Linked DNA regions of Homo sapiens: regions 1, 2, 3, 4 and 5 are each reported to be linked to region 6. The links are microRNA targets in miRTarBase. Many come from high-throughput screens and were not tested one by one. Region 6 holds a microRNA gene; each other region holds the end of a gene's coding sequence. Distances are between the middles of the regions.

The links. The annotated mature microRNA hsa-miR-520c-3p reads AAAGUGCUUCCUUUUAGAGGGU and lies in region 6 at 2,077-2,098, shown strand. An mRNA with a match to its seed (bases 2 to 7 or 8) in the 3' UTR can be bound and repressed. Matches are read on the target gene's strand: a 7mer-m8 pairs with bases 2 to 8, a 7mer-A1 pairs with bases 2 to 7 and ends in A, and an 8mer does both.
Region 1: miRTarBase lists TRAF3IP2 as a target of hsa-miR-520c-3p. Seed matches in the 3' UTR shown: 7mer-m8 at 2,912-2,918 and 7mer-m8 at 1,907-1,913.
Region 2: the mRNA of CCDC125 is a reported target of hsa-miR-520c-3p. Seed matches in the 3' UTR shown: 7mer-m8 at 1,222-1,228.
Region 3: miRTarBase lists SUGP1 as a target of hsa-miR-520c-3p. Seed matches in the 3' UTR shown: 7mer-m8 at 1,100-1,106.
Region 4: the mRNA of CCDC30 is a reported target of hsa-miR-520c-3p. Seed matches in the 3' UTR shown: 7mer-m8 at 2,940-2,946 and 7mer-m8 at 2,087-2,093.
Region 5: miRTarBase lists TMEM134 as a target of hsa-miR-520c-3p. Seed matches in the 3' UTR shown: 7mer-m8 at 1,732-1,738, 7mer-A1 at 2,277-2,283, 7mer-m8 at 2,431-2,437 and 7mer-m8 at 2,771-2,777.

What each region holds. Positions count from the first base shown.
Region 1 is chr6:111,555,785-111,559,871 of GRCh38, forward strand. It overlaps TRAF3IP2 (TRAF3 interacting protein 2), which reads right to left. Exons shown (of 9, transcript NM_147686.4): 9 at 1-3,767. The coding sequence ends at 3,621. It also overlaps TRAF3IP2-AS1. Among named protein-coding and RNA genes, the nearest start is that of TRAF3IP2, 48 kb to the right of the region's middle. RefSeq lists an enhancer at 3,580-4,079.
Region 2 is chr5:69,279,293-69,283,379 of GRCh38, reverse strand. It overlaps CCDC125 (coiled-coil domain containing 125), which reads left to right. Exons shown (of 12, transcript NM_176816.5): 12 at 346-3,205. The coding sequence ends at 651. Among named protein-coding and RNA genes, the nearest start is that of CDK7, 46 kb to the right of the region's middle.
Region 3 is chr19:19,273,331-19,277,417 of GRCh38, reverse strand. It overlaps SUGP1 (SURP and G-patch domain containing 1), which reads left to right. Exons shown (of 14, transcript NM_172231.4): 13 at 342-471; 14 at 744-1,385. The coding sequence ends at 770. Among named protein-coding and RNA genes, the nearest start is that of TM6SF2, 2.1 kb to the right of the region's middle.
Region 4 is chr1:42,653,298-42,657,384 of GRCh38, reverse strand. CCDC30 (coiled-coil domain containing 30) reads right to left here. Exons shown (of 21, transcript NM_001395517.1): 20 at 3,942-4,009; 21 at 195-3,567. The coding sequence ends at 3,357. All of the region lies in intron 1 of LOC124904162 (a long non-coding RNA gene), which reads left to right. Among named protein-coding and RNA genes, the nearest start is that of PPIH, 3.1 kb to the left of the region's middle.
Region 5 is chr11:67,461,304-67,465,390 of GRCh38, reverse strand. It overlaps TMEM134 (transmembrane protein 134), which reads left to right. Exons shown (of 7, transcript NM_025124.4): 5 at 291-335; 6 at 535-588; 7 at 695-3,681. The coding sequence ends at 777. It overlaps CABP4 (calcium binding protein 4), which reads right to left. Exons shown (of 6, transcript NM_145200.5): 6 at 3,639-4,087. Among named protein-coding and RNA genes, the nearest start is that of TMEM134, 5.9 kb to the left of the region's middle.
Region 6 is chr19:53,705,430-53,709,516 of GRCh38, forward strand. It overlaps MIR520C (microRNA 520c), which reads left to right and starts at 2,024; the gene lies at 2,024-2,110. MIR526A1 (microRNA 526a-1) reads left to right here and starts at 823; the gene lies at 823-907. It overlaps MIR518C (microRNA 518c), which reads left to right and starts at 3,306; the gene lies at 3,306-3,406. It overlaps LOC107985346 (a long non-coding RNA gene), which reads left to right. Exons shown (of 5, transcript XR_001753998.1): 4 at 1,656-1,778; 5 at 2,840-2,880.

The sequences.
Region 1 (4,087 bases), not on the chromosome of region 6:
TCAGTGCTCTCAAATAGTTGTTACAATTCCTTTGATGGGCCGGGCGTGGTGGCTCATGCCTGTAATCCCAGCAATTTGGGAGGCCGAGGCGGATGGATCACGAGGTCAGGAGATCAAGACCATCCTGGCTAACACGGTGAAACCCCGTCTCTACTAAAAATACAAAAAATTAGCCGGGCATGGTGGCAGGTGCCTGTAGTCACAGCTACTCGAGAGGCTGAGGCAGGAGAATCGCTTGAACCCGGGAGGTGGAGGTTGCAGTGAGCTGTGATTGCACCACTGCACTCTAGCCTGGGTGACAGAGCGAGACTACGTCTCAAAAAAAAAAAAAAAAAAATGCTTTGATGTTGGTGGTCATCGGATCTCATAGAAATTTCAGGGGCCAAGCTTTTGTCACTTGGCCAAGTGCGTGTGTGTGTGTATGTGTGCGTGTGTGTGTGTGTGTCTGTGTGTACTTTTTGGTTTGTTTTTTTGCTACCAGTGCTACCAGCTGTAACACTTTAATGACTCTTTGTGGAACACCAGGGACCACTGCTCATCAACCACCTGGGGTAAGAAGAGTGGAAGGAATGAGTGGTTCAGAGCTTAGGACAGGTCTCTGAAGGGAGGAAGGGTTAATAACATCACATTGCTAAGTCTTTGCAAACTAGAAACATTTCAGAGTAATTGCTGATGTCATTTTATTTACAAACGGGTGTCGAATCCTTAATGATGGTGTCACCTCAGACTAAAAAAGATAATGAAAAAAGAGAAAGAAGACTTGAAGTTTGTGTTTGGGTGTTTTCCAGGTTATCCAAATATGAAAGTCAGTTCTACCAGGTCTCAAAACTACGGAACTAATGTTACATGTCAGAAAGTCTTACAAATGAGTACTTATGTTATGCTAGTTTTTCTTCTCTTTTCCTATTTTTTAAAGAACAAAGACATTCGTCTCACCCAGTAGACATCTAAGTTATAAAGTAAATGAAACTAGTGTTCTTTGCAATGCATTAGCAATGTTTCTTATTTATAGTTGACAAGTATTTGTCCTTTCCCTGTGCTACATATAAGAGCTGGACTGGGCTGGGCGTGGTGGCTCCCATCTGTAATCCTAGCACTTTGGGAGGCCAAGGCAGGTGAATCACTTGAGCCCAGGAATTCGAGACTAGCCTGGACAACATGGCAAAACCCTGTCTCTACAAAAAATACAAAAATTAACCAAGCATGTTGGTGCACACCTATAGTCCCTGCTACTTGGGAGGCTGAAGTGTAAGGGTCACCTGAGCCCGGCAAGGTCAAAGCTGCAGTGAGCTGAGACTGTGTCACTGTACTGCAGCCTGGGAAAGAGTGAGACCCTGTCTCAAAAAAAAGAAAAAAAAAACAAAACGGTGGACTGTCTTGTAGCACAAGTGAGCCTTGTTTAAGAGGCTAGTAGATAAAGAAGGGAAGCAGTAGCTTGCAGCCCCAAAAAGTCTTCATTGTCTTAGTAGCTTGGGCCATAATTAAAGCCATCCCACCTTTATAGTTTACGTAGATTTGATACATGTATACATATTTTATATATGGATATGTGTATGTGTTCTTTTTCTGGAGACCAGGTAAACAAGATATATAGATACAGATAGATATCCAAAATTATCAACCTGAGGGTATTGTTGAAGTTTTTTTTTTTTTTTTTTTTTTTGAGACGGAGTCTCACTCTATTGCCCAGGCTGGAGTGCAGTGGCGCAATCTCGGCTCACTGCAAGCTCCGCCTCCCGGGTTGACACCATTTTCCTGCCTCAGCCTCCCCAGTAGCTGGGACTACAGGCGCCTGCCACCACGCCCGGCTATTTTTTTTGTATTTTTAGTAGAGATGGAGTTTCACCGTGTTAGCCAGGATGGTCTTGATCTCCTGACCTCATGATCCGCCTGCCTCAGCCTCCCAAAGTGCTGGGATTACAGGCGTGAGAAGATATTTTTTAAAAGAGGAAAATGTTGGCTGGGTGTGGTGGCTCACACCTGTAATCCCAGCACTTTGGGAGGCCGAGGTGGGCGGATCACAAGGTCAGGAGTTCGAGACCAGTCTGGCCAATATGAAACCCTGTCTCTACTAAAAATACAAAAATTAGCTGGGCATGGTGGCAGGCGCCTATAGGTCTAGCTACTTGGGAGGTTGAGGCAGAAGAATCACTTGAACCCAGGAGGCGCAGGTTGCAGTGAGCCAAGATTGCAGCACTGCACTCCAGCCTGGACGACAGAGCGAGACTCTGTCTCAAACAAAAAAAAAGAAGAAGAAAATGTCTCTGTTAAGAAAATGTAAATTTGTCCTCTGAGAGACATAATTATGAAAATGAAAACTCAGTCACTCCTCAAAAGAGTATTTAGAATTTAGGTCCTAGACTTCAAATCTTTTAGAGTGATTAGAGATGCTTTTGTCCATGTCATTTTATAAATGAGTCCCTGGAATCTAAGAAAAGTTAAAGGACTTGCTAAAGGTCATACAGCTAATTGGTGGTAGAACCAAAATTAGAACACAGACTACAATTCTAGCCTACATCCCCCAACACTTCATACACATATGCAAATATTTTTACCTATGTAGTCAGATCCTGAGAACCATAATCATACTATTTAGAATCATGGCTGTATGCTATATAAAGTTGTTTTGTTAAAAATGGGTGTTTTTATTTGTTTGTTTGTTTTTTGAGACGGAGTCTCGCTCTGTCTCCCAAGCTAGAGTGCAGTGACATGATCTCGGCTCACTGCAACCTCTGCCTCCCGGGTTCAAGTGATTCTCCTGCCTCAGCCTCCCGAGTAGCTGGGATTACAGGTGCACACCACCATGCCCGGCTAACTTTTTTGTAATTTTAGCAGAGATGGGGTTTCACCATGTTGGCCAGGCTGGTCTCAAACTCCTGACCTCAAATGATCTGCCTGCCTTAGCTTCCCAAAGTGCTGGGATTACAGGTGTGAGTCACTGCGCCCAGCCTAAAAATCTTTATTGCAAGAATAAAGCTTCCATGATTATGGTTAAAAAGGGTTGTTTAACTAGCTGGCTTTAATCCATTAATACAGAGTGGTCTGTTATATTTATCTAATATTATATCTAAGCAGCTTTGTTGATGTCCCTGGAAGCAACTGCCCATATCATTATAAATTATATGTATCTCCTTTGAGATAAGTAAAACATAATCTTACAAAAGAGTAAACATTTTATTATTTGTACATGAATCAGTTTGGTCTGAGGATACACAAGCATCTGGCTAACTCATAAAAGTAGCCTGAAGTGATTGATAGGAGAGTGTTTGTAGTCATTTCCATTTGCTGCCACATCCCTTACATTATCTACTTGCTAAGCACTGAGAGGCCCAGAATGGACACATCAAACTGTCAGGAGGAACATATGGGACACTGGCACCTGCAATGGTTTTTTTAAAAGCAGAGAATGCAGAGCAGTCACAGACTCCACTTCAAAGCCAGGGTGTGTGGAGGTCTCCGGGGAAGAGCTCTGCACAACAGGTTTCCTGGGGGCCAGAGGGCCTCTCGGGGAGGAACAGAAAAAAACCAGCCAGGAGTGCTACCGACCAGCCTCAGCCAGAATGCTGTCAGAACAAGGCCCCAAACATGGCCTGGCCTCAGTGATCTGGGGATGAACGGTGTCACAAGGGAACCACCTGAAGGGTGGGCAGAGGCCCCCGTGGAGGAGCCACATACTCTTCCTCTCTCAGCAGCCGCAGCAGGATGTTTTTTTTATTCTTGGGCCAGCTGTAGACATGAGTGTTCTGAAGCCAGGTGGGCACATGCTCCTATGGGAGGCAGAATGACAGGAGCAAAGGTCATTAGAGAAAAACCTGGATGCCAGATCCCAGGCTCAGTTCCCAAACATTTCTGGCTTTCCCTACATGGGCGTTTCCTACCAAACTATCCTGGGAGTTGTGCTGTTTTGCTTTTGGAAAGGTTTAGCATGTGAAATGTTCTTGGCTTCGGGTACAAGCTGTATATCTCATTATAAAAACCACATGTGCACAGCATTTTCTGTCAGTCTCCCAGACTACCTACCCTTTGCATTTCAACTTGCTTTTCACCACCCTCACATAAAAGGGGTAGGACAGAGGTCACACAGAGT
Region 2 (4,087 bases), not on the chromosome of region 6:
GGTGTGGTGGCGGGCACCTGTGGTCCCAGCTACTTGGGAGGCTGAGGCAGGAGAATAGTGTGAACCTGGGAGGCAGAGCTTGCAGTGAGTGGAGATAGTGCCACTGCACTCCAGCCTGGGTGACAGAGCCAGACTCCGTCTCAAAAAAAAAAAAAAAAAGATTCATGAATAACATGTAGTATAATGTTTGGGGATCAGGTGATACCTAATTTATTCATACTGATGGACAGATCAGTATGAATATTAGGGTTGAATAACTTGATAAAATAGTACAATACTCCTTTCTCTGAATATATTCTGTGATTTATTGACTAACTTGTACATGTTTAATTTCTGTGCATGCAGCTTAATGATAAAGAAGAAGCTTTGGCTCATCAAAGAAAAGTTAGCTACATGCTTGCTCGGGCATTGGAAGACAAAGACACTGCTTCAAACGAGAATAAAGAAAAAAATCCTATAAAAGAGAATTTCCCTTTCAACAACCCCTGGCGTAAGACTTCAGAATTCTCTGTTTTGGGTGATCCTATACATTCAAGTGTCTGCATTTTAAATTCTGTGGGCTGCATTTGTTCAATCCAGCACTCTCAAATAGATCCAAACTATAGAACTCTTAAAAGATCCCATTCTTTGCCATCAAGTATCATATTTTAAAGACAAGCCAGTTGAAATTGGAACTGAGAGTTGTTTATATCGAGATACTTTGAAAAATGATTTTGTAAATTTTGCTGCATCTTGAGAAGTTGTATGTTTCCTAGGTATTTCTAAATTTTAGGAGGTCACTTAAATCAAATATTTTCTACATTTTCTTTTTCTTCTTTTGAGATGGAGTCTTGCTCTGTCACCCAGGTTGGAGTGCAGTGGTGTGATCTCGGTTCACTGCAACCTCCGCCTCCCGGTTCAAGCAATTCTCCTGCCTCAGCCTCCCGAGTAACTCGGATTACAGGCATGTGCCACCACGCCCAGCTAATTTTTGTATTTTTAGTAGAGACGGGGTTTTACCATGTTAGCCAGGCTGATCTTGAACTCCTGACCTCAAGTGATCCGCCTGCCTTGGCCTCCGAAAGTGCTGGGATTACAGGCGTGAGCCACCACACCCAGCCTATTTTCTACATTTTCTACAAGAAATTAGTATTCTGTGTTGACATTTTATTTATAAATTACATTACTGTATTTATAAATTACATTACAGGCTGGGCATGGTGGCTCATGCTTATAAATCCCAGCACTTTGGGAGGCCAAGGTGGGTGGGTCACCTGAGGCTGGAGTTCAAGACCAGTCTGACCAACATGGAGAAACCCCATCTCTACTAAAAATACAAAAAATTAGCTAGGCCTAGTGGCGCATGCCTGTAATCCCAGCTACTTGGGAGGCTGAGGTAGGAGAATCGCTTGAACCTGGGAGGCGGGGGTTGTGGTAAGCCGAGACTGTGTCATTGCACTCCAGCCTGGGCGACAAGAGCGAAACTCTGTCTCAAAAAAAAAAAAAAACACATTACAGTGTTTGCCAACATCCTAAAACAAAAAATAATGATTTTTGGGAAAAACAAAAAATTATTTAACTATTTTGATTGACTATAGGGATCTTAGCTTGGCTAAATCAACAATATAGCAATGTATCTTAATGCTCTAAAAAGTAACAATACCTAGGACTGACTGAATGTTAATTTCTGGAATTCATTTATCTTGTTTTATTTGCCTTGTTCAGTATTTTTCATTTACCATATGAAGTTTAGAAATAACAATTTCCTTAAGTTAACTTCAATAAGACAGTTTTGATGGTGGGACCTTGGCAGAAGTATATTGAGTCAGTGCCGGCTGCGTTCATGGCTTCTTGTCAGGGTAGTAACATTTTGCAACCAAATCTGCACAGATTTGTAGCCAAGTCTACAAAGTGCTTAACAGCTCTTTTCATTGCATCCTGTGAGATGGTTGTGATGATCCAGGAAATGGGGTCTCAGGAATCTGAAGAAGCTGCCTGAGCCAAGGTGATTTCTAGGAGTTTTTTTGTTTGTGGTATGTGAATTGGGGTGTGTGGGGGTGGGGTGTGTGTGTAGACAGGGTCCCACTGTGTTGCTCAGGCTGGTGCCAAACTCCTGGCCTCAAGGGATCCTCCTGCCTCAGCCTCTCAAAGTGCTGGGATTACAGGCATAAACCACAACTCAATAAAAAAGTTTTTAAAAATTTACAAAGCTCATATTTGATCCAGCTAGGATTTTACCCTGTACATTTGTATTTCTTGTAGGCTGGCGCACAGATATCTTAAATGGCTACTAATTGCTGCTGTGTATGAAAACAAATGGCTATCAAGGCCGGGTGCAGTGGCTTACAGATCTGGTCTGAATCTCAAGTCCAGACCAGTCCAGAGTTCAAGACCAGCCTGGGCAACATGGTGAAACCCCATCTATACAAAAACTCGGCAAGGCATGGTGGCATGCACCTGTTGTCCCAGCTACTCAGGGGCTGAGGCAGGAGGATGGCATGAGCCCAGGAGCTTGAGGCTGCAGTGAGCTGTGATTGTGCCACTGCACTCCAGCCTGAGTGACAGAGTGAGACCCCCATCTCCAAAAGAAAAGGCTATCAATACAAAAGTTTATCTAAATTACTGTACAGCTATACAATGGAATACTCTACAAAATGGAGAGATCCATAAGATAAAGCAAATGAATAAAGCAAAATGCATGTGTTGACAGCTGTTGTGATACCTCAGTTCTTGTCTTCTTGGTTTAAAAGAATTTAAATGAGACAGCAAAGGAGATGCAGCATAATTTATTGCAAAAGAAAAGGAGTATTTTGAAAGTTAGGTGCAGAACAGACAGTACACCTGAGAGAGAGAATTCAGGGCCGGCTGCTCGTAAGGGTGAGACAGCATTGATTATTGCTGGAGAAACTCCCTTTATGGGAGTTTTGCATTATTATTCATAAGGAGGTGAGGTGTTGCAGTAATCATGTCCTGGGTGGTCCTCTGCACAGGTGCAGTAGCTGTTAATGCTTGTTCATACACCACATGTCTCAGTAGCATCTTAAATTTCCACCTAGAGGTGTGTTTTTTATTATTATCATGTGCAAAGGATCAGTTTGAGGACAGGTAAAATCAAAATGTGTATGCTCTCTAGAAGGGAAAGTCCCTACTGAAGATAGCTTTGCTTAAATGAGCTCAATTACAATGTGAATGCTGAGGTTTATTGTGTTGGCTGTATGGTCATGAGAAAATGGTCATTTCCTTGACTACCTGATACGGTTTGGCTGTGTCCCCACCCAAGTCTTATTTTGAATTGTAATCCCCATAATTCCCACATGTTGAAGGAGGGACTTGGTGGTAGGTGACTGGATCATGGGGGTGGTATCCCCCATGCTGTTCTCATGATTGTGAGTTCTCACGAGATCCAATGGTTTTATACATGGTAGTCTCTCCTGCTGCCATGTAAAACATGCCTGCTTCCCCTTCTGCCAGGATTGTAAGTTTCCTGAGGCCTGCCCAGCCATGTGGAGCTATGAGTCAATTAAACCTCTTTCCTTTATAAATTACTGAGTCTTGGGTAGTATTCTTTATAGCAGTTTGAGAACGGAATAATACACTCCTATCCTGCCTCACGTGTTAGACACATTTTGAGTGTCCTCAGATCCCTTTGGCGCTATTATCTCCTGGACTCTTAGCTGCTTGGCTGCTTCTCCCTTGGCAGCTCCCTGTCTACACACACACACGAGGAAGTCAGACAGATTTGAAGCACGAGTGGGTTTGATGCACTGCTGCTGTCCTGTGGTGAGTGCCACAGGACAAAGGCATGGAAGTTTCCTTAAGAAGCTGAGAGAGGCCCTGGGCTAACAGTCAAAAGGGAAATGGGGGCAATGGAGCACAAGAATTGCAACTATAAGAACTGCATGAGCGGCCGGGCACGGTGGCTCACGCCTGTAATCCCAGCACTTTGGGAGGCCAAGGTGGGCGGATCACGAGGTCAGGAGATAGAGACCATCCTGGCTAACACAGTGAAACCCCGTCTCTACTAAAAATACAAAATATTAGCTGGGCGTGGTGGCGGGCACCTGTAGTCCCAGCTACTCGGGAGGCTGAGGCAGGAGAATGGGTGAAC
Region 3 (4,087 bases), 34 Mb from region 6:
CACTCCCAGAGATGGGCAGGAGCTCTCCCAGGTGTGACCCTGGCCCCGAGTGCCCCCTTCAAGGCTGTCCTTGAGTAACCATCCTGCCATCCCAAGAGCTGCGACAACTTGCACTGTGGGCTCCTCCTTCCTGTGTGGGACCCTGGGGCCTAGGCCCCCCCCCCCCGCCCGCCCCGGGGGTCTCCCCTCCTTGACCATTCAGGTTCAAGCTTCTCTCTGTGCAGATATGTCCCAGCCCAGCCCTGCACCCGCGGGAGGTGCTGTTGAGAGCCCAGCTGTGCCCGGCCCCCCGGCCAGAGTTCTGGCCCCAGGTCCCTGCTCACATCCTCTTCTCCCTGTAGGGGCACCACCACAGTGGACGGCGCTGGCTTCGGCATTGACCGGCCGGCGGAGCTCTCCAAGGAGGACGACGAGTATGAGGCGTTCCGCAAGAGGATGATGCTGGCCTACCGCTTCCGGCCCAACCCCCTGGTACGCATGTCCTCCTGGGCTGCCTTTGCTCAGTCGACAGGAGAGGGTGGTGGTAGGAACAGAAGGCTCCCTTCCTTCCTCAGTCCAGCCAGGCTGGGTCTCACCAGCGAGCCCCCTACCACCCACCTGCATTCAAGCCCCCACCCGTCCCCCAAGCCTGCCCTGCCACCTCAAGGGTGCGGGCTCAGCTGCCTCCGGAAGGTTCCAGACAGGAGGAACTGCTGTCTTTAGTGCTAATCCCCTCCTCCTGTTATCTGTTTTGCCTTCCACAGAACAATCCCAGACGGCCTTACTACTGAGTGTTCTGGAAATACATACTTTCTGAATGACCAACCGTCCCTGGACTGTGGAATGTTCCGGCCTGCATTTCTGCCCACCCCTTCCGTTGTCACGAGTGCCGTGCCGTGTAATAAAGTCCCAGTGCTCATCCACCACAGATGCCTGGTCCTGTTGCAGGAAGCCCCTCCTGTTAGCAGCGGGATGCAAGATGCTGTCTCGGGGCTCTCCTTATTGGCCTGTGGAGTCTCCATCCCCGCTCAGCCTGGGTTGCACTGGAGGGGAGGAAGAAAGTTGTTTTCAGCATAGTAAAGCTGGAAGGCCAGGTGCAGTGTCTCACCCCTGTCATCCCAGCACTTTGAGAGGCCAAGGCGGGCGGATCACTGGAGGTCAGGAGTTTAAGACCAGCCTGGCCAACATGGTGAAATCCTGTCTCTACTAAAAATATAAAATTAGCTGGGCATGGTGGTGCACACCTGTCGTCTCAGCTACTCGGGAGGCAGAGGCAGGAGAATGGCTTGAACCTGGGAAGCGGTTGCAGTGAGCCAAGATTGCGCCTTTGCACTCCAGCCTGGGCAAGAGAGCAAGACTCTGTCTCAAATAATAATAATAATAATAAAGCTGGAGACTTGGCCACACCTGGGCTAAAGGAATGTCAGGAACCTCCGAGCCTAGCACTGTGCTGCAGAGGGAGGTTGGGGAGGGGTCTCCAGGCAGGGCCCCACCTTCCCTCAGACCTGTGGGGGCAGGTGGCTTCTGGGCACACCCATGTGCTCTCCTGGCAGGTGGTGCTGGCACGGCCCAGCACACAGGTGTTGGCTGTGGCCCTTCAGGTCCCACCAGTGTGGTAGGCACACGAGTCCCTGGGGCTTGTGTCGTTAGGGGACAGCCGCATGGATGCATGGATGTGCCATGCCAACATGTCAGGCAGCTCCTAGAAGGAAGGGCCTCAGAGCCGGAGGTTTTGAGGCAGGAGGGTAGCCCAGGCCACAGTGTGTGCCAAGACCCCCACATCTGCCCCAGGGCCAGAGCCCCACATTTGTGCCTAAGTCACCCTGGGGATCTTGTTAAGCTGCAGCTGCCGAGTCAGCTGGTTGGGCAGGGCCCTGGGAATTTGCATTTCCATCTGCCCCCACCCCCTCCACACACACCCAGTGGGTGCTGCCCAGCCCCTGCAGGCACCAGGGGCTCCCTATTCACATGCTTGGCATGGAGTCGGGCTCCTGGGCCAGCTTGTGTTCACACAGCCATTCAGCAAACACTAGGTGCCAAGTGTGGGGACCAGGTGGACAAGATCTACTCCAGTCAGCCAGGCTGCTGGGGATGAGGTCTGAGGCTGCTACTGAGAGGAACCAGGGAGCCGTGGTGGGGCGGTCTGCAGAGTGTCTCAGTGGGGTCTGAGACCAGGGAGGTGCCAGATGCAGTGGCAGAGCCAAGGCTGGGGTGATATACCACCCTTTGTTCTTTCCTGACGCTGTGGCTGAGGCAGAGCAAAGAGTAACATTGGTGGGCTTGGCCTGGGTGCCCATGAATGAGGGCTGCCCAGAAGGCAGTGGGCCAGGACCCTGAGCACAGCGGGGTAGTTCTCTGCAGCCAGTGGTTCAGGGAATCCTGGCACTGGGTCCCAGGCATTCAGCCATCCAAGTCACTTCTCAGTTCTCAGCAACCTGGAGGCTCACCAGGCTCAGGGCATGGACTTTACCCCTTGCCAGGGGACGAGGCCTCCAAGTGCTGTGTGCGTGTGCAGGTGCATCCTGTACACGGGACAAGGCCAAGCCCCTAGGCTGAGCTGGGCACAGGCACCCTGGCCTTGTGTGGAGAAGGTGGGGTGGGGGTGGCAGGCAGGGCTGCCTGGAGGAGGGGATGCTGGGGCCCGCTTACAAGAAGGCTCATTTTACAGACAGAAAGCAGGCCTGGGGGGTGTTGACCCTGCTAGAGTTGGGGAAAGTCCAGGGGAACCTGAACTTCACCCATGGGCAGTGGACACCTGGGGAAGGAGGCTGAGTCAGACCTGCGGCCAGAAGACCCTCTTGTGGCCCAGTTCAGGAAGACCTGTGACCCAGTTGGCATCAAGCTAAGGGGCTGCGTGCAGAATGGGGCCTGAGGTAGGGGCAGTGGTTAGAATTTGTGCCAGCTGCAGACTGGGGTCCCGCAGGGCAGGCGTCAGGTGGGCATGGTTCACCTTGCTGTCTGCAGCATCCACAAGTACTCCACATGGGCCAGAGTCTGGTTGGAGGGGGTGACAAAGACAGATGGTCTCCTTATTCTCCCCCCCAATACTGTGGCCCCCTCCCAGCTGTTCAAAACCTCCCACAGCCTCTCACAGCTGTCTCGCTTCTCATCACACCCCAGCAGAACCGACCTCCTTTCCACTGCTCAGTTCCAAGCCTGAGCCACTTTCCTCCCTGCCAGGAACACCGTTCCCAAACTCTTCACCAAACTGGCTCCATCCCGATATTCTAACTTCAGCCCCCACCCGCTAGGACCCCTTCTACCCTCTCCCCGAAATGAAGAACCCTAAACCCGGGACTAGCCTGCAAAGGGACAGCCCCGGAGTCAAAGCCTCACACTTAAAGACCCCTCGCAGTGGCTCACGCCTGTAATCCCAGCTCCTCGGGAGGCTGATGTGGGAGGATCTGTTGAGCCCAGGAGTTTGAAACCAGTCTGGGCAAAAAAGTGAGACCTCTGTCTTTACAAAAAATAACTAGCTGCGCGTGGTGGTGCATACCTGTAGTCCCAACTACTTGGGAGGCTGAGGTAGGAGGATCTCTTGAGGCTGGGAGTTCAAGGAGGAGGGCCACTGCACTCCAGTCTGGGCCACAGAGTGAGACCTCTCAAAAAACAAACAAAAAAACTTCACACCTGCCTGGAAACACGTTTACATTTGTGGCCACCTTATGAAAACTCAAATCTAAGCCCACTGAAAGGCATTTTGCACCCAAGAGCTGGAGGTTGCTCCATCCGTGCGCACAGGGAATGCCGACTTGATCTTTGGGTGGGGATGGGAAACTCTGGGGAATGCAGAGGTTTAGAAGCGCAGAGTCCAGGAGAAAATTTCCTTAGAACGAAGTTGTGGAGGCAGGGGAAAGAGGGGGCACGCCAGGACCTCCAGGGCGCACCCCTTGGCCTAAGAGCAGAAGCATCCCGAGGTGTTGTGTCCCAGCCTTTGACAGTGAGGGAAACTGAGGCTGAGTAGCGGGACGGCCATTGGAGACGAGGGTGTCGATGGTGAGGGGCGAAGGGGCGGGGCAGCTGCCAGGGGGAGGGCCGGGGAGGGGCCTTGGAGGCTCCCTGGGAACACGCAGGGCGGTCACGGCGGCCTGCCCAGGGCGCAGCGGGG
Region 4 (4,087 bases), not on the chromosome of region 6:
CTACACCTCATTTCCTGCCACACACACATAATCTTCCTCCCTGATAGCATATAAACTCCATGAAAGTAGAGACTCTCCTGGTCCTATTCGCAGCTGTAGCTGCAATGTCGCCTACTGAATAGCATATAGTAGGTATTCAATAAATAATAGATGCAATGAATTTAGTGAAAGAAGGGGACCTTGGGCAAGGCTCATTCAATATAACAGCATGCATTTAATAAAATAGTTATTATTTCCTAGTTCCTATGATCATCTTTCTAGCTCTGTTGTCTGAGAAAGCAAGGATTACATATAAAAATACAGTGTGTCTCAATGTAAAGGGTCATTTTTATTTCTGGTTACTGATCCTCTCCTCTTGGTCTCCTCCAACTGAAAAAGAAGAAAGGGGAGGAGGGGGAAAAGGAACAGCAGCAGTCACGCTTCAGTATAATTTTATACCAACTGTTTTAGAATAAATCTTTAAAATTGATAATATCCAATGTTGATGAGGTTGTGAAAAAAATAGTACATTGATAAACCTCTAGTGAAAATAAATGATGATAGCATTTATTAAGCAGTTACTACGTGCTAAATACTTTACATGCTTCATTTCATTTGGTCCTCACAACCCTATGGGATAGAGAACTATTATTGTTCCCATTTTAGGAATCAAGAAATTGAGGCTCAAGGAGGTTGAGTAACTTGACTATGAAAACAGTATGTTGACACACTTTTTATTTATTTTATTATTTATGTATTTATTATTATTATTTTTTGAGACAGAGTCTCACTTTTTGCCCAGGCTGGAGTACAGTGGAGTGGTCTCAGCTCACTGAAACTTCTACCTCTTGGGTTCAGGTGATTCTCGAGCCTCAGCCTCCCGCATAGCAGGGACTACAGGTGTGCACCACCATACCCGGCTAATTTTTGTATTTTTAGTAGAGACAGGGCTTTGCCATGTTGGCCTGGCTGGTCTTGAACTCCTGGCCTCAAGTGATCCACCTGCCTCGGCCTCCCAAAATGCTGGGATTATAGGCGTGAGCCACCGCACCTGGTCAGGCAGAACCCTTTTTTAAAGCAAAGGAAGTGATGTCCTAGAGCAATATTAACATTTATATCCTTTGACTCAGTCCAATCTTGCGAATTTGTTTTCTGGAGTAATTCAAAAGAAGAAAAGAACTACATGCACAAAGACCTTCAACACAGCATAATCTTAAATAGTAACAAAGTAAAACCAGGCCTGGCATAGAGGCTCATCCTATAATCCTATCACCTAGGAGGCTTAGGTGGGAGGATCACTTGAGCCCAGAAATTTGAGACCAGCTTGAACAATAGAGTGAGAGTGAGACCTCGTCTTTACAAAAAGTACAAAAATGAGCCAGGCATGGTAGCACATGCCTGTACTTGGGAGAGGCTGAGGAGAGAGGATCACTTAAGCATGGGAGGTTGAGGCTGCATGAGCAGTAATCAAACCACTGCACTCCAGCCTGGGTTACAAAGTGAGACCCTGTCTCAAAAAAAAAAAAAAAAAAAAAAAAGTAAAAACAGCTTAAATGCCAAACAAGAGAACGTTTAATTTATAGAACATCCACATCCTCAGAGATACTGAGCAGTACTGTTCCACCCTGATAGATGAAATGGATGTGAATGTTGCTGATCTTTTCTGAAGAAGCAGTCCCACTACACTAAAGATGAGCTGGAGACTGTTCACCTACTTTGTACTCCTGTTTGGAAATATTTAGGGGTAGTTTCTGTGTAATGGGGTTTATGTGAACTCTCTTCTCATACCCCCTCCCCCAGGAAAAGCTCTTGGTATTTTCCTATCCACTTTTATTTTATTTTATTTTATTTATTTTTTCGAGATGGAGTCTTGCTCTGTCACCCAGGCTGGAGTGCACTGGTGCAGTCTCGGCTCACTGCAACCTCTGCCTCTCGGGTTCAAGTGATTCTCCTGCCTCAGCCTCCCCAGTAGCTGGGACTACAGGCGCGCGCACTACCACACCTGGCTAATTGTTTTTGTATTTTTGTTAGAGACGGGGTTTCCCTAAGTTGGCCAAGCTGGTCTCGAACTCCTGACCTCAGGTGATCTGCCCACCTCGGCCTCCCAAAGTGCTGGGATCACAGGTGTAAGCCACCACGCCCAACCTCCTATCCACTTTTAAATAATGTATTGCTCTAAATCTTCTTCATTAAACATTTAAAACTTTTCCCATAAAAATAATTATAGAACATCAACATGATTGAATATCATATGGCGATTGAAAATGTTTCCATGGTATATACAGTAAATTAAAAATCAAACTGTGAAAATGAATATACAATATTATAATAACCACTTAGAATATATGTACTTGAATTAGGACCAAAAGGGAATAACTGTAAAATAAAATTAGTTGTGTTAAGACTGTGGTATTGGTGTAATCCCAGCACTTTGGGAGGCTGAGGTGGGTGGATCACCTGAGGTCAGGAGTTCAAGACCAGCATGGCCAACATGGTGAAACCTTGTCTCTACTAAAAATACAAAAATTAGCTGGGCATGGTGGCGGGCACCTATAATCCCAGCTACTTGGGAGGCTGAGGCAGGAGAATTGGTTGAACCTGGGAGGCAGAGGTTGCAGTGAGCGGAGATCATGCCACTGCACTTCAGCCTGGGTGACAGAGTAAGAGACTCCGTCTCAAAAAAAAAAAAAAAAGCTTATGGTATTATAGGAGGGTTTTTGTTTTTGTTTTTTGCTTTTTTTGAGACGGAGTCTCACTCTGTCACCCAGGCTGGAGTGCAGTGGTGCTATCGCAGGTTCACGCCATTCTCCTGCCTCAGCCTTCTGAGTAGCTGGGACTACAGGCACCCGCCACCACACTCGGTTAATTTTTTTGTATTTTTAGTAGAGACAGGGTTTCACCGTGTTAGCCAGGATGGTCTCGATCTCCTGACCTCGTGATCCACCCACCTCAGCCTCCCAAAGTGCTGGGATTATAGGCGTGAGCCACCACGCCCAGCATAGGAGGGTTTTTTTAAAAACAAAATTTGCTTTAATGTGACTGTATTGTTTTTACTGTTAAAAAATAAATCAGAAAAGATACCCATGATAATGGGAAAGAATGTTGAATTAACCCTACATGTGCTCTGCTGAAGAGAAACCTAAATAAATCATTGAACTAAAGTCAATATTTTGGTCAATACAAGGCATCTGAGGATATCAAACAAACTTGAGAAATCCATTTTTACAACTGCTTTAATGAATTTATCAGCAGTTTTGAAGACTCTTGGGTGATATCCATTTGGGATCTGTGGTAACTCTTCTCAATGTCATGGTCCACCTTTTGTCCAGGCTTTAAATTACCACTTTTGTTCAGTATAGCTTTAGGCACCAGTGATTTTATAGTTCTGACTTTTGGTCTTGTTCTTGTATACCATGTGTCTCCTTCAGAGAAGCCACATTTATGTATCCAGCCTCAGAATTCTGTGAACACACAAGATTCTCAGGAGACTTTTCAGGGGACTTTGAACTTGCCATTGCTTCTTTTGACTTGATCTCTTCAGTCTCTTGAAGACTTGCAAATGACTCTACCAAACCTTTTCCTGAAAAACTAAGAAATGCCATATGTGAGGACATCATGTACATAGAGTTTGTTGGTAGCAGTTCGGGGTTACAGGGATACAGGCATTGATAGAATTTCAATTTTTTGCAACTGTTACACAAAGCCAAATAAAATTTACCTTAAACCTATGTTCATATTTTATTTCCTACCTTAAGTCAGGATTCTGTGGGGTTTAGAGTTGAAGGAGTGGCAAGGGGAGGAATTGGAAGAAGATTCAAATAATTCATGTAGAGAAAATGACCCCAGAAAGCTATGCCTTCTCAAGCCAGCAATCCAGGACTAGTTAGGCAGCCATGACTCTCAGGCATGGCTGACAGTCCATCTCAGATAGACTTGACTTTATTTGTCTTGACTTTACTAACCTGGAGTTTGATAAAGGCAATATTTCATTCACTACTTCGGATTCAAGGATGTCACTAATTGTTGTTTCCTAAAAGGAAAGAAAGGATGAATGTGAAAAGTTATAATGATAAACCATTAGCTATATGATCCTAGAAAAAAATATATA
Region 5 (4,087 bases), not on the chromosome of region 6:
CTGCCCTTCAGGGCGGAATTCCCAGTACCAGGCACGCAGTAGGTGTTCCATAAATGTTTGCTGAATGACTAAAAGCCCACCCCAAGGAACAAAGAAAAATCTCTCCTTTCACACACTTCCCAGGGCCTGCTCAGTGCCTTGCTCTGGAAACAGAGCTTGGTGAGCTTCCTGGGGAGGGTCTCTGCCTAGGGCACCTTCAGCTCAGGTGGTGGGTGAGCCGGGCTGGGGGTGGGAGCCCCCGCCCTCACCACTGCTCCTGCCCCCACCCCCGCGGCTCCGTCTGTGTGCAGTGCTGATCCTGGTCGGCGTGGGACTGGAGGCGACCCCCTCTCCAGGTGAGCGACCCTCCCGCCCCCACAGGCAGAGGACACCCCTGTCTTGTGTCCACGGGTCCACGGCAAGCCCTCCCACCTCCCGGCAGTACACGGCTCCTTTTCAGCTGGGAGTGAGGCTTGCCCGGGCAGTCAGCGGCAGCCCGGAAGGCCTCGAAGCCTCCGCCCCCTCGCCCTGACCGGGCTCTGGTCCCTCCCGCAGGTGTCTCCAGCGCCATCTTCTTCGTGCCGGGCTTCCTGTTGTTGGTGCCTGGAGGTGCGAGCGGGCACCGGGGCGGAAGGGGCGGGGGCTGTGGGGCGGCACTGGGGGCGGTGTTGCGGGGAGGGGCGGGGCTTCTGCGCTGACAGGCCCCGCCCCGCAGTCTATCACGTGATCTTCATCTACTGCGCGGTCAAGGGCCACCGGGGCTTCCAGTTCTTCTACCTGCCCTACTTCGAGAAGTGATCGCGGCGCAGCGTGGACCCCTTGCGCCCATGGGGGCGCCCCTCTTGCCCTGTTCCGTTCCCCTCATCTCAAGGGAAGAGGCCCTCCAGGACCCTCGAAACCCCAGCCCCTAGGGAGTTTGCTCAGGAAGTTCGGGGCATGCAGGCCTGGCCCTGGGAAAGCCGCCCGTCGCCTGCTCTGTGCCTTAACTTATTCTCGGGCCGTGCGGCTGCTAGGTTGCTGTTATTTTGTGCTAATAAAAGAGTAATTAATTCCACCAGAGGCAATTGCTCTCCTCCTGTCCTGCCACTGCTAGCCCAGCCCACCAGCCTGACCACAGCCCCCCTCCCAAGGACTGACCCTGACGCTGAAGGGCTTCGAGCACCACCGAACGCGTGGCAGCCCTGATGCTGAGGCTTGCCCAAGGGCACGGGGCATGTTAGGGGCAGAGCTGGGCGTAGGACTCCTGCCTTGCCAGCCAGGAGCCGGCCGGAACAGCCTGCCCCACCCCCAGCCCTTGGATGACTCAACCAGCCCGTCTCTGTCTGGTGGCCCTGGCCGAGGGCACGCAGAGATGACGCAGGCCTGGGACCTGGAGGCTGGTATCCTAGTTCCAGCCTGGCTCTGGGGCCCTGGGCTGCCACAGCCAGCCCTGAATGTGGGCCATGTCAAGGCAATGGCCCAGCCCCCTCCACCCACTGCCCTCCTTCCCAGTCCCAGAGGTTGGGAGAACCTGGGGGCAGAGGGCATAGGAAGCCGCGCCTGACAGACACCCTCAGTGGTCAAAGACTTAGAAATGCAGAACGTTAGAAACAAACCATCTCAGAATTTTGGAACATCAGCATTTCAGAATCTTACGAAACAAGAAACAGAATCTTTGAGAAACCTGAAATCTGAGATCATAGTAGCTACCAGTTATCAATTTGTTGAAAGACCCCAGGATGGCCGGGCACGGTGGCTCAAGCCTGTAATCCTAGCACTTTGAGAGGCCAAGGTGGGAGGATCGCTTGAGCCCAGGAGTTCGCGACCAACCTGGACAACATGGCGAGAACCCATCTCTATTTAAAAAAAAAAAAAGAAAAGAAAATATACTAGGCCCTGCGCTAAGCACTGAACACGGGTTATATCTTGTAATCTTCACTACCTCCGTCCCATTTTACAGATAAGGACTGACTCACCCAAGGACAGCCAGCAGGTGGTAGGTAGAATTAGGAACGTAGCCCAGGGCTCTTCCCATGACACTGTCGGGGAGGGAGAAGGAAACCGGCACTGAGCTGGTCTCCCCTACCGGCCAACCAAGAGGCTGGCTGAGTGAGCAAGGGTTGGGAGGCCCTGTTGGTGCACCTGCCCGTACTGTCTATCTCCCCCACCAAAACACGGGTCCCACAAACCACTGTCTGCAGCACCCAACACAGCGGGGCCTTCAGGATTCTGAGTTAGAGGAATGGACACCCAGACTCTTGCTCTCGCTCCCACCTTTCCAGGCCCCGCAGACTTCCCACCCTCATCCCCCATTCAAGGCACTTAGGGGGCACCCATTGGATGCAGGAACTCCTAAACCAGTGGTCCCCCAACTAGCTATGGTAAAGGACCAGTTTTCATTTCTAATCCATCACGGTCCAGTACTTTCATAAGAAGAACTAGCCGGGTGCCGTGCCTCATGCCTGTAATCCCAGCACTTTGAGAGGCCACGGTGGGAGGATCACTTGAGCCCAGGAGTTCGAGACCAACCTGGGAAACATGGGAAAACCCCATCTCTACAAAAAATACAAAAACTTAGCCAGGCATGGTGGGGCGCCTGTAGTCCCACCCACTTGCGAGGCTGGAGTGGGAGGATCACGGAGCCTGGGAGGCTGCAGTGGAGTCATGATTGCACCACTGCACTCCAGCCTGGAAGACAGACTGAGACCTATTTAAAAAATAAATAAATAAATAACATAAAAATTTTAAAAACTAGAAAAATGAAATAAAAAACATACAGAGGCTGGGCGTGGTGGCTCATGCCTGCAATCCCAGCACTTTGGGAGGCCGAGGCAGGTGAATCATGAGGTCAGGAGTTCGAGACCAGCCTGGCCAACAGGGTGAAATCCCATTTCTATTAAAAATACAAAAAAATTACCGGGCATGGTGGTGCGCACCTGTAATCCCAGCTACTCAGGAGGCTGAGGCAGGAGAATCGCTTGAACCCGGGAGGCAGAGGTTGCAGTGAGCCGAGATCACGCCACTACACTCCAGCCTGAGCGACAGAGCGAGACTCTGTCTCCAAAAAAAAAAAAAATACAGAATACAAGTCCACAGTTTATCAGATTAATTAGACATAAAATTACATTTCAATAAATATAATCAGAACAAACATAGGAAAAAGGAAAAATGACAAAAACCATTGAATATGAACAAACAGGCAATTAACACAGAATCGCAGCTAACAACTTTTTACTCCTTGTTTTTTTTTTTTTTGTTTTTTTTTTGAGACGAGTCTCACTGTCTCCCAGGCTGGAGTGCAGTGGCCCGATCTCGGCTCACTGCATCCTCTGCCTCCCGGTTTAAGCGATTCTCATGCCTCAGCCTTCTCAGTAGCTGCGACTACAGGCACATGCCACCATGCCCAGCTAATCTTTGTATTTTTAGTAGAGACAGGGTTTCACTATGTTGGCCAGGCTGGTCTCCAACCCCTGAGCCACCTCGCCCGACTTCATTCTACAGTCTTAACAGAAAGCAATTTCAGAAGTGGTGATTCCCATCATTAGAAGTCTGCGTTAGGAATCAGCAAGGTATAGTCCACAGAGTGGTTTTTATATTTTGTAATGGTTGGAGAAAAGTCAAAGAATAATAAGATTTTATGACATAAAATTATATAAAATTCAAATTTCCATGTCAATAAATGAAGTTTTACTGTTATTTATTAAAATTTCTGATATAGCCACACTCATTTGTTGACTTGACTTTGCACTACAAACTTCAACAGCAGAGTTGCGTGAGCAGCTGCAACAGAGACCAAAGCCTCAAAGCTGAAAATAATTATTCTCCAGCCCTTTACAGAAAGTTTCCCCACCCTTAGTCTACATGAACACTTTGACAGAACACCGTGAATCTGACTTTTCTCTCCAGTTATTTATAAGATTTGCTTTTTATATTCTGTGGTTTCAATGGGATATATCCAGATATATATTTATTTTTATTTACCCTACTCTGACTTCAGTTTGTTCCTTCAATCTGGGGAGTTGAAGTCTGTGGAAGTCTTTATGGAAAATTTTCAGCCATTATCTCTTTGGTTATTGCTTCTTGTTCATTCTCTATGTATGTCCTCCGTCTGAGACTCCCAAGGACTTAT
Region 6 (4,087 bases):
CATGCTGGAGTGTAGTGACGTGATCTCAGCTCACTGCAACCTCCACCTCCCAGTTTTAGGCAGTTCTCCTGCCTCACATTCCTGAGTAGCTGGGATTATAGGTGCCTGACACCATGCCTGGCTAATATTTGCATGTTATTTATTCATGTATTTATTTGTTTTGAGATGGAGTCTCACTGTCACTCAGGCCAGAGGGCAGTGGCAGGACCTCGGCTCACTCAAACCTTTGCCTCTCAGGTTCAAGCAAGTCTTCTGCCTCAACCTCCTGAGTAGCTGGAATCACAGGCACCCGTCACCACGCCCGGTTACTTTTGTATTTTTTTTTTCACCATGTTGGCCAGGCTGGTCTGAAACCCCTGACTTCATGTGAGCCGCCCGCCTCAGCCACCCAAAGTGGTGGGATTACAGGCATAAGCCACTGCGCCCGGCCAACAATGTATATTTTTCAACATGGGAGATTCAGTTTTGAATGCTCCCATCGGGACTGTGTGTCCCTGTGCTGGAACTCAAGTGAACGCTTGGCTCAAAATCCATTGCTGTTCTCTAGAAATCCAGCCCAATTCTCTTGGTTAAATGTAAGGTATGTGTAGTAGGCAATGCTTTTTCTGGAGACAGAACTCAGGAGGATTGTCCCTCGATGATCTAGGCTAACCTGCTGAGACTTTGAAGCAAGGAACTGGAGATGGTCCTTTTAGGGTTTTATGTTCTGGATTCCAGAAAACATGCAAACAGGGCCAATAAATGCATCCTCATTTTTGTGTCCATTTTAACCTGGTGAAGGAAAATTCCAACAAAAAACCCACAGTGCTGGAGCAAGAAGAGCTCAGGCTGTGACCCTCTAGAGGGAAGCACTTTCTGTTGCTTGAAAGAAGAGAAAGCGCTTCCTTTTAGAGGATTACTCTTTGAGAAAAACAACATTGAAGTTAATGCTGATCTTGGAGATCATGCTTATAATCAGACTTGGATGATGTTGGGGTTTTGTGGGGTTTTTTTGGTTTTTTTTCCTAAGACAGGGTGTCTGTTGCCCAGGCTGGAGTATGGTGGCCCCTCCAACCTAGATCTCTTGGGTTCAAGTGGCCCTCTTTTTTGGGACAGAGTCTTGCTCTGTGACCCTGGCTGGAGCTCAGTATCAGGAACTTTGCTCACTGCAACCTCTGCCTCCCAGGTTCAAATGATTCTCCTGCCTCAGCCTCCCGAGCAGCTGGGATTACAGGCATATGCCACCACGCCCAGCTAATTTTTGTATTATTGTTATGTATTTATTTTTTAACTTATTCATTTTAGAGACAGAGTCTCACTCTGTCGCCCAGGCTGGAGTGCAGTGGTGCGATCTCGGCTCACTGCAACCTCCAACTCCCAGCTCAGCCTCCTGAATAGCTGTCTGCAGGCATACACCACCACACCTGGCTAACTTTTGGTTTTTTTGTACAGATGTGGTTTCCCCATGTTGCCCAGGTTGGTCTCGAACTCCTTAGCTCAGGTGATCTTCCACCTTGGCCTCCTAAAGTGCTAGGATTAGTGGTGTGAGCTGTTGTGCCCCACCTATACTCGTCTGTTTCTGCTCAGATTTTATTGAGGAGCGTTTACAGGGTAGCCTGTTGTCTACCCTGCAGGATGTTTGTGCCTACAACAGTGTATATTCTTCAACATCTTAGATTCCATTTCGGATGCCCCCATGAGGACTGTGCGCTCCTGTACTGGAACTCAAGCGACCACTTGGCTCAAAATCCATTGCTATTCTCTAGAAATCCAGCCCAATTCTCTTGGTTAAAGATAAGGTATGTGTAGTAGGCATTGCCTTTTCTCTTTGGGAACAAAACTCAGGAGGATTGCCCGTTGATGAACAAGGCTAACCTGCTGATTCTTTGAAGCAAAGAACTGCAGATGGTCCTTTTAGGGATTTATGCTCTGGATTCCAGAAAACATGCAAACAGGGCAAATAAATGCATCTTTATTTTTGCGTCCATTTTAACCTGGTCAAGGAAGATTCCCACAAAAAATCCACAGTGCCAGAGCAAGAAGATCTCAGGCTGTCGTCCTCTAGAGGGAAGCACTTTCTGTTGTCTGAAAGAAAAGAAAGTGCTTCCTTTTAGAGGGTTACCGTTTGAGAAAAGCAACATTGAAGTTGATGCTGATCTTGGTAATACATTTTCAGAGCATGCTTATCATCAGAGATGGATGATGGTGGGCTTCTGTTTTTGTTTTGATTTTTTCTTTTTTTTTTTTTTGAGATGGAGTTTCGTTCTTGCTGCCCAAGCACTAGTATGTAGGAATTATTCTTTATGTGAGCATATAGTACATGGAACTTTGTTTTTTTGAGACAGGGTCTCCAAAATATATACATGTTATCATATAATCTTCTATGTATAATTATATTCACACAAAATAGTCTTCTGCACACAGAGAATACTCTTATATCACTTTGGGGTTGTTTTTGTTTGTGTATTTTTTTTTTTTTTAATTTTTTTTGAGACACCATCTGGCTCTATTGCCCAGGCTGGAGTGCAGTGTTGTGACCTCAACTCACTGCAGCCTCTACCTCCCACCTCAGCCTCCTGAATTAGTGTCTACAGGCATGAACCACTACACCTGGCTATCTTTTGTATTTTTACAGATGAGGTTTTACTATGTTGGGCAGGCTAGTTTTGAACTCGAGCTCATGTAATTTTCCCGCCTTCGACTCCTAAAGTGCTGGGATTAGAGGTGTAAGCCACTGCACTCCACCCGTACTTCTGTACAAATGTTATTGAGGAGCTTTTACGGCCTAGGCAGTGCTCTATCCTGGAGAATGTTTGTGTGTAAGACAATGCATATTCTTTTTTTCTTTCCTGTCACCCAGGCTGGAGTGCATTGGCACGATCTCGTCTCACTGCAACCTCCGCCTCCCGGGTTCAAGCAATTCTCCTGCCTCAGCCTCCTGAGTAGCTGGGATTACAGGTGGGCACCACCACGCCTGGCAAATTTAGATTCCATTTTGGATGCTCCCATCATGACTGTGTGTCCCTGTGCTGGAACTCAAGTGACCATGTGACTCAATCCATTGCTGTTCTCTAGAAATCCACCTCAATTCTCTTGGTTAAAGGTAAGGTATGTGTAGTGGGCATTGCTTTTTCTCCTTGGAGACAAAACTTAGGAGGATTCCCCTTGATGAACAAGGCTAATCTGCTGAGCCTGGAGATTGTCCTTTTAGAGGTTTATGTTCTGGATTCCAGAAAACGGTCAAACAGCGAATAAATGCATCTTTATATTTGTGTCCATCTTAACCTGGTCAAGGAAAATTTCAACAAAAATCCCAGATGGCTGGAGCGAGAAGATCTCATGCTGTGACTCTCTGGAGGGAAGCACTTTCTGTTGTCTGAAAGAAAACAAAGCGCTTCTCTTTAGAGTGTTACGGTTTGAGAAAAGCAACGTTGAAGTTGATGCTGATCTTGGTAATACATTCGCAGAGCATGCTTATCAGGCTTGGATGACGGCAGGGTTCTGTTTTGGTTTTATTTTTTTCCAAGACCAGTCTCTGTTGCCCAGGCTGGAGAGGGAGGGGTTGCACTCCAAACTAGATCTCTTGGGGTCATGTCTTGCTCTATTATTATTATTAATTCTTATTTTTGTGTGTGTGTGAGACGGAGTCTCGCTCTGTCACCAGGTTGGAGTCCAGTGGCGGAATCTCAGCTCACTGCAACCTCCGACTCCGTGGTTCAAGCGATTCTCCTGCCTCAGCCTCCTGAGTAGCTGGGATTACAGGCACGCACCGCCATGCCGAGCTAATTTTTGTATTTTTAGTAGAGACCGGGTTTCACCACGTTGGCCAGGATGGTCTCAAACTCCTGACCTCATGATCCACCCGCCTCGGCCTCCCAAAGTGCTGGGATTACAGGTGTGAGCCTCCGTGCCCAGCCTGTTATTTTATTTTGTTTTATTTTATTTATTTTATTTTATTTTGAGATGGAGACTGGCTCTGTCGCCCAGGCTGGAATGCAGTGGCAGGATCTCCACTCACTGTAACTCCCACCTCTGTCGCCCAGGCTGGAGTGCAGTGGCAGGATCTCCACTCACCGTGGAGTTCCAGTGATTCTTTCACCTTAGCCTC